2 linked regions of the Homo sapiens genome follow. The protein of the gene in region 2 interacts with the protein of the main gene of each other region in a pairwise test. Each region holds a gene or a part of one and is shown on either strand. Other genes may lie near its edges.

The links. Proteins that work in one complex are often made in the same cells at the same time.
Region 1: the proteins of THAP4 (region 2) and AMD1 interact in binary tests that used the Homo sapiens proteins (3 or more experiments, as listed by UniProt).

Annotation. Positions count from the first base shown.
Region 1 is NC_000006.12:110,888,285-110,891,784, forward strand, and holds part of AMD1 (S-adenosylmethionine decarboxylase proenzyme), read left to right. Parts: intron 1-51; exon of another isoform or gene 52-122; intron 123-572; coding exon 573-699; intron 700-1,969; coding exon 1,970-2,072; intron 2,073-3,500.
Region 2 is NC_000002.12:241,630,659-241,634,158, reverse strand, and holds part of THAP4 (peroxynitrite isomerase THAP4), read left to right. Parts: intron 1-79; coding exon 80-1,242; intron 1,243-3,500. UniProt on the Homo sapiens protein: Heme-binding protein able to scavenge peroxynitrite and to protect free L-tyrosine against peroxynitrite-mediated nitration, by acting as a peroxynitrite isomerase that converts peroxynitrite to nitrate.

The DNA.
Region 1 (3,500 bases), on a different chromosome or scaffold from region 2:
TGCTGGGGGATACTGGACTAAACAGCCCCTCCCCCCCTTTTTTTTTCTGAGGCGGAGTCTCAGTCTGTCCAGGCTGGAGTGCATTGGCGCAATCTCCTCTCACTGCAACCTCTGCCGCCCAGGTTCAAGCGATTTTCTTGCCTCAGCCTCCCAAGTAGCTGGTATTACAGGCGCCTGCCACTGTGCCCGGCTAATTTTTGTATTTTTAGTAGAGACGGGGTTTCATCATCTTGGCCAGGCTGGTCTTGAACTCCTGACGTGGTGATCCACCTCGGCCGCCTAAAGTGCTGGGATTACAGGTGTGAGCCACTGTGCCTGGCCTCTCTCTTTTTTTTTTTTAAACTAAGTTTATATTATGAATATACGAATGTTTATCAAAATGCTTACCATGTGCCAAGCCCTGGGGATGTTTTGTATACTAGAAAAGGAAAAGAATAATGTGTTACTTGCTTCCTTGAGATCCTAATATTTAAAAGTACTAGCCAAAATTGTAAATGATAATTAAATTGGTTGATTGCACCCTCAGTAGTACATTAGTATTGTTATAATATTGTGACTTTTTTCAACTGCAGTGAGAGTAGCATGTTTGTCTCCAAGAGACGTTTCATTTTGAAGACATGTGGTACCACCCTCTTGCTGAAAGCACTGGTTCCCCTGTTGAAGCTTGCTAGGGATTACAGTGGGTTTGACTCAATTCAAGTAAGTAAGCAAACATTTAAATATTTTTCAGGCATAAATGTTAGCGTTCTTATCCTGTAATATGCGAAGTAAATAAATTTATATACTTACTGCCTTTGTTACAATGCATGCAAACACGTGGTAAGGTGTTCATACCTTAGGAAGAGATCTGATTCTCAAGAACAGCAGAAAATAGGAAGCAGAGAATGAGTTAGGATGAAATTCAAATGGGAGAAAGAAATGAAGAAGCCAGACACTTCCAGTAGTTAATTTCTTAACATGGCTACTTATAATAATAGAGAAATGGTAAGAAAAGAAGGAAAAGCAAGAAAAATGTCGTTACTGAAATTGTCCAGTCTTTATAATGAAGAGTTAGGATGAAGAGCAACAGTCAGTATTGAGTTAAATTCTTATACTTTTCAAGAACTAAGGTGTTTTTACCTAGGGTATAATTTTCTGATTAGCAGTTGTTACATTTTATTTATTTTTTATTTTTTTGAGATGGAGTTTCGCTCTTGTTTCCCAGGCTGGAATGCAATAGCACGATCTCAGCTCACTGCAATCTGCACCTCCCAGGTTCAAGTGATTCTCCTGCCTCAGCCTCCCAAGTAGCTGGGATCACAGGTGCCCACCACCATGCCTGGCTAATTTTTTTTGTATTTTTAGTAGAGACGGTGTTTCACCATGTTGGCCAGGCTGGTCTCTTAACTCCTGACCTCAGGTGTTCCACCCACCTCAGTCTCCTAAAGTGCTGGGATTGCAGGCGTGAGCCACTGCACCCGGCCTGAATTTTAATCTTTAACTTCATAAGGAAAGGATGGATTGTCATTAGTACTCAATACAGTTTTTGTTGTTATGAATTGATCCTTGTAAGAAATCTAAAGCAATGTGTGCTTAACCGATGCTTAAAACTAATATGTTATTCCCCCCAAATTTTTGCTTATATGACTATTAATAAGCTCAGTTTAGAAACTACTGTTCTAGAAAGGAATATACTTGGTGTTAATAGTTGTTATGACCCATCATCACTAGACTGGGCTTTTTAAAAAAAAGAGAGAGAGAGAGAGATGGGGCCTCAGTATGTTGCCCAGGCTGGACTCCTGGGCCAAGTGATCCTCCTGCCTCCTAATAGCGAGACTACAGGCATATGCTACCATGCCAAGCTAAAATATTTGAGTTTTGATTTTGCCGAGTTTTTGATATGTGGACAATAGTTGATTAGCTTCGAAAAGTGATAGAATTCTACATCTAAAGTCATCTTTTTTTTTCTTTCTTTTCTTTTTTAATAAAGAGCTTCTTTTATTCTCGTAAGAATTTCATGAAGCCTTCTCACCAAGGGTACCCACACCGGAATTTCCAGGAAGAAATAGAGTTTCTTAATGCAATTTTCCCAAGTAAGTTTAAATAAAATATAAACCTGTTGTCTTCTTAAAGATAGAAAGTGCAACCTCAGAGATCTTTCTATATGAGAGCATACTTATGCATATATAGCATTCTACACACACTAATACTTGCTTTTCTTGTGGGTTTTTTGGTTTGTTTTAGACAGGGGTCTCATTCTGTCACCCATGCTGGTGCAGTGGTGTGATCACAGCTCACTGCAGCCTCAACATCCCAGGCTTAAGTGATCCTCCCACCTTAGCCTCCCAAGTAGCTGGGGCTACAGATGTTTGCCACCCCACCTGGCTAATTTTTTTTTAATTTTTAGTAAAGACAAGGTTTTGCCATATTGCCCAGGCCGGTCTTGAACGCCTGGGCTCAAGGGATCCACCTGCCTTGGCCTCCCAAAGTGCTAGGATTACAAGTGTGAGTTACTGCACCTGGTCCATATTTACTTTGACTTAGATGTTTTGGGAGTACAGTAGTGATCTTTATATAGCTTGTAATTCAAAATATGCAGAATTTATAAAGAACATTAAAATATCAGATAAAATATTTTTAGTTAAGATTAATAGCTTATTGCAAATTATGTATACACATGTAAAAATAATTGTGTATCATAAATCAGTGCTGTTTAAATGATGGAATTTTAAAATGTAGAATTGATCACCTGCCACCTCTGATTTTTCATACAGCATAGAGAGAGTTCATCTTCATCTGGCCATTCACTCTACTTTATGTCTCACTCAGTGGTTCTTTTTGCGTTTTTGTTTGAGACAAGTTTCACTTTGTCTCCCAGGCTGGAGAGCAGTGGCATCATTATAGCTCACTGCATTGTCAAACTCTTGAGTTCAAGCACCCAGCTAATTTTTATTTTATTTTTAGTAGAGATGGAATCTTGCTGTGTTGCCCAGGCTGGTCTTGAACTCCTGCCCTCTAGCAGTCCTCCAGCCTCAGTGGTTCTTAACATACAGATCATAATGTCCTTTGACAATATGAAGAAGGATATGATTCCCTTCAGAAAAATGCCTAGTGCTCTGCTCCAGCATTTTATATAATAATTGACCTGGCTTTTTAAAATTGCACAGTGTAAATTAGTGTTTCTTGAATGAAATTCGTAAGGGTTTCTTTCATCCATTTACTAAGCTTTTATTTATAGAGGTCAGGGAACAAAGGTTATCTGATAACATCCTTACTTCCTAGATAAGGCTGAAAACCTAAGATAATTTAGTAACTTTGCACAAAGTCGCTCATAAGCATGAAAATTGAACTTAGCACATCTACTAATATGAAACCAAACCAGGCTAATCAGAGTGTTGGGTATTTACTGCAAATACCCGCCAAGTCAGTCGATCCTGCTTATCTGGGAATTTACCTACTGTTTCCATTCCTTTCACTGATGACATTTCTTTTTTCTTGAGATGGCGTCTCGCTTTGTCACC
Region 2 (3,500 bases):
TTGTTTTGCTTTTACAGTTGATTATTTTAAGGGGAGACATTTAATTATTTCTAATTACTTTTTGTCATTTGTCCTGTAGGTTCCCCCTAAAGGACTCAAAACGTCTAATCCAATGGTTAAAAGCTGTTCAGAGGGATAACTGGACTCCCACTAAGTATTCATTTCTCTGTAGTGAGCATTTCACCAAAGACAGCTTCTCCAAGAGGCTGGAGGACCAGCATCGCCTGCTGAAGCCCACGGCCGTGCCATCCATCTTCCACCTGACCGAGAAGAAGAGGGGGGCTGGAGGCCATGGCCGCACCCGGAGAAAAGATGCCAGCAAGGCCACAGGGGGTGTGAGGGGACACTCGAGTGCCGCCACCAGCAGAGGAGCTGCAGGTTGGTCACCGTCCTCGAGTGGAAACCCGATGGCCAAGCCAGAGTCCCGCAGGTTGAAGCAAGCTGCTCTGCAAGGTGAAGCCACACCCAGGGCGGCCCAGGAGGCCGCCAGCCAGGAGCAGGCCCAGCAAGCTCTGGAACGGACTCCAGGAGATGGACTGGCCACCATGGTGGCAGGCAGTCAGGGAAAAGCAGAAGCGTCTGCCACAGATGCTGGCGATGAGAGCGCCACTTCCTCCATCGAAGGGGGCGTGACAGATAAGAGTGGCATTTCTATGGATGACTTTACGCCCCCAGGATCTGGGGCGTGCAAATTTATCGGCTCACTTCATTCGTACAGTTTCTCCTCTAAGCACACCCGAGAAAGGCCATCTGTCCCCCGAGAGCCCATTGACCGCAAGAGGCTGAAGAAAGATGTGGAACCAAGCTGCAGTGGGAGCAGCCTGGGACCCGACAAGGGCCTGGCCCAGAGCCCTCCCAGCTCATCACTTACCGCGACACCGCAGAAGCCTTCCCAGAGCCCCTCTGCCCCTCCTGCCGACGTCACCCCAAAGCCAGCCACGGAAGCCGTGCAGAGCGAGCACAGCGACGCCAGCCCCATGTCCATCAACGAGGTCATCCTGTCGGCGTCAGGGGCCTGCAAGCTCATCGACTCACTGCACTCCTACTGCTTCTCCTCCCGGCAGAACAAGAGCCAGGTGTGCTGCCTGCGGGAGCAGGTGGAGAAGAAGAACGGCGAGCTGAAGAGCCTGCGGCAGAGGGTCAGCCGCTCCGACAGCCAGGTGCGGAAGCTACAGGAGAAGCTGGATGAGCTGAGGAGAGTGAGCGTCCCCTATCCAAGTAGCCTGCTGTCGCCCAGCCGCGGTCAGTACCGGAGCCTCGCGTACCCATGTTCCCTTCCCGTTAGGAGGGGTTTCTCTGCAAGGTGGCCAGCGTCCCCTGAGCATTTCTGGGAGGTGTCACAAGCTCCCTGCGCTCTCAGGAGGAAGCTCTGGTCGTAACCATACCTTGTGGATGAGGGAATCCAGGTTAGAAAGCAGGCCTCACTGCACCTGGTCCCACAAGAGGCATCTGTGTGTGTAGGGATGTAGGCCGTGAAGGAGGCAGGCAGCACGCGTCAGCCAGGAGTGCCTGAACGCCTCCGTGGAGAGTGCACAGGGAAAGATAGCTTCTGTTTCATACCTTATGCAACAGAAATTCCAGATGAGTTAGGAACTAGATGGAAAATAAGAGAGTAAACTCTCAGAAAAAGCAAATATCAGAAACTGTTAAAATCATGAGGAGGTTCTTTCTGTTCACGTTTTAAGGAATATCCTTGAAGTTAAATCATCATGAACATTAATAATTATTTTAACATCTATTCAATTAAAACATCTGTTGAGGCTGGACTCGGTGGCTCACACCTGTAATCCCAGTACTTTGGGAGGCTAAGGTGGGCAGATCACTTGAGGTCAGGAGTTCGAGACCACCCTGGCCAATATGGTGAAACATACAAAAACATACTACTAAAACATACAAAAACTAGCTGCACATGGTGGTGCACGCTTGTAATCCCAGTTATTGGGGAGGCTGGGGCAGGTGGATTGCTTGAACCTGGGAGGCAGAGGTTGCTGTGAGCCAGGATTGCACCACTTCACTCTGGCCTGGGTGACAGAATAAGACTCTGTCTCCAAAAAAAAAAGACACACATCTATTGAAACACATTCTCAGCCGGGCATGGTGGCACACTCCTGTAATGCCAGCTACTCAGGAGGCTGAGGCAGGAGAATAGCTTGAACCTGGGAGGCGGAGGTTGCAGTGAGCTGAGATGGCACCACTGCACTACTCTTTGTCAGCCTGCGTGACAAAGAGCACAACTCTGTCTCAAAAGAGAAAAAAAAAAAAAAAGAAATACAATACATTCTCTGTTGCAAAAATTAAAACTGCAGAAATAGACTAAGAAGTGGTAAAAAAATTATTGTTTGTCATCCACCTCCCAAGTTCTATTCCTTGTTGTTATTAAAAATTTGGTGTGTAAGCCAGGCACAGTAGCTCTTGCCTGTAATCTCAGCACTTCGGGAGGCCGAAGAGGGAAGGTTACTTGAGTCCAGAAGTTCAAACCAGCCTGGGCAACATAGGGAGACCCCATCTCTATAAATAATTTAAAAATTAGCCGAGTACCATGGTGCACGCCTGTGGTCCCAACTACTTGGGAGACTGAGGCAGAAGGATAGCTTGAGCCTGGGAGGTCGAGGCTGTAGTGAGCTGTGATTGCACCACTGTACTCCAGCCTAGGTGACAGTGAGACCCTGTCTCAAAAAACAAAATTTCCTGTGTAATCTTTGTATGTATATTAGCTCTATTTCTGTTTTTTCCCATATTTTACTGTTAAGTATTTCTTAAAATTGGTTTCTAGATGTTTACATATGGCGGATGGTTTCCTTTGCCTGTCGTGTACATAGGAAAACCATATTCCTACCACATTGTTGATTTCATCTGGATCAATGCTTGTCAATAAGTATATGATAGTGGGACAAGATTTTCAGGACCTCCTGGATCCTCAGGGTAACAGCTATTAGCACAACCGAAAACAAAGCCCATCCGACATGTTCTCCAGATGTGTCCTGGGGAGGAACGGTGCCACTGAGTACTGCTGACCTAGATTTTCAGATCAAATCTAGATTTTCGGATTCTTGGGTTGAAATTGTATACTGTTTTTCTCTTGGAATTTTATTTTATTTTTTGAGATGGCATCTCACTCTGTTGCCGAGGTTGGAGTGCAGTGGTGAGATCTCAGCTAACTGCAACCTCTGCCTCCCGGGTTCAAGCAGTTCTCCAACCTCTGCCTCCTGGGTTCAAGCAATTCTCCTACCTCAGCCTCCCAAGGAGCTAGGATTACAGGCCCCTATCACCACACCTGGCTAATTCTTATATTTTTAGTACAGATGATGTTTCACCATGTTGGCTACAGTTGTGAGCCACCACACCAGGCCTTCTCTCGGAATTTTTTTTTTTTTTTTTTGAGACGGAGTTTTGCTCTTGTTGCCCAGGCTGGAGTGCAATGGTGCAATCTTGGCTCACCGCAACCTCCACCTCCCGGGTTCAAGCAATTCTCTTGCCTCAGCCTCCCGAGTAGCTGGGAT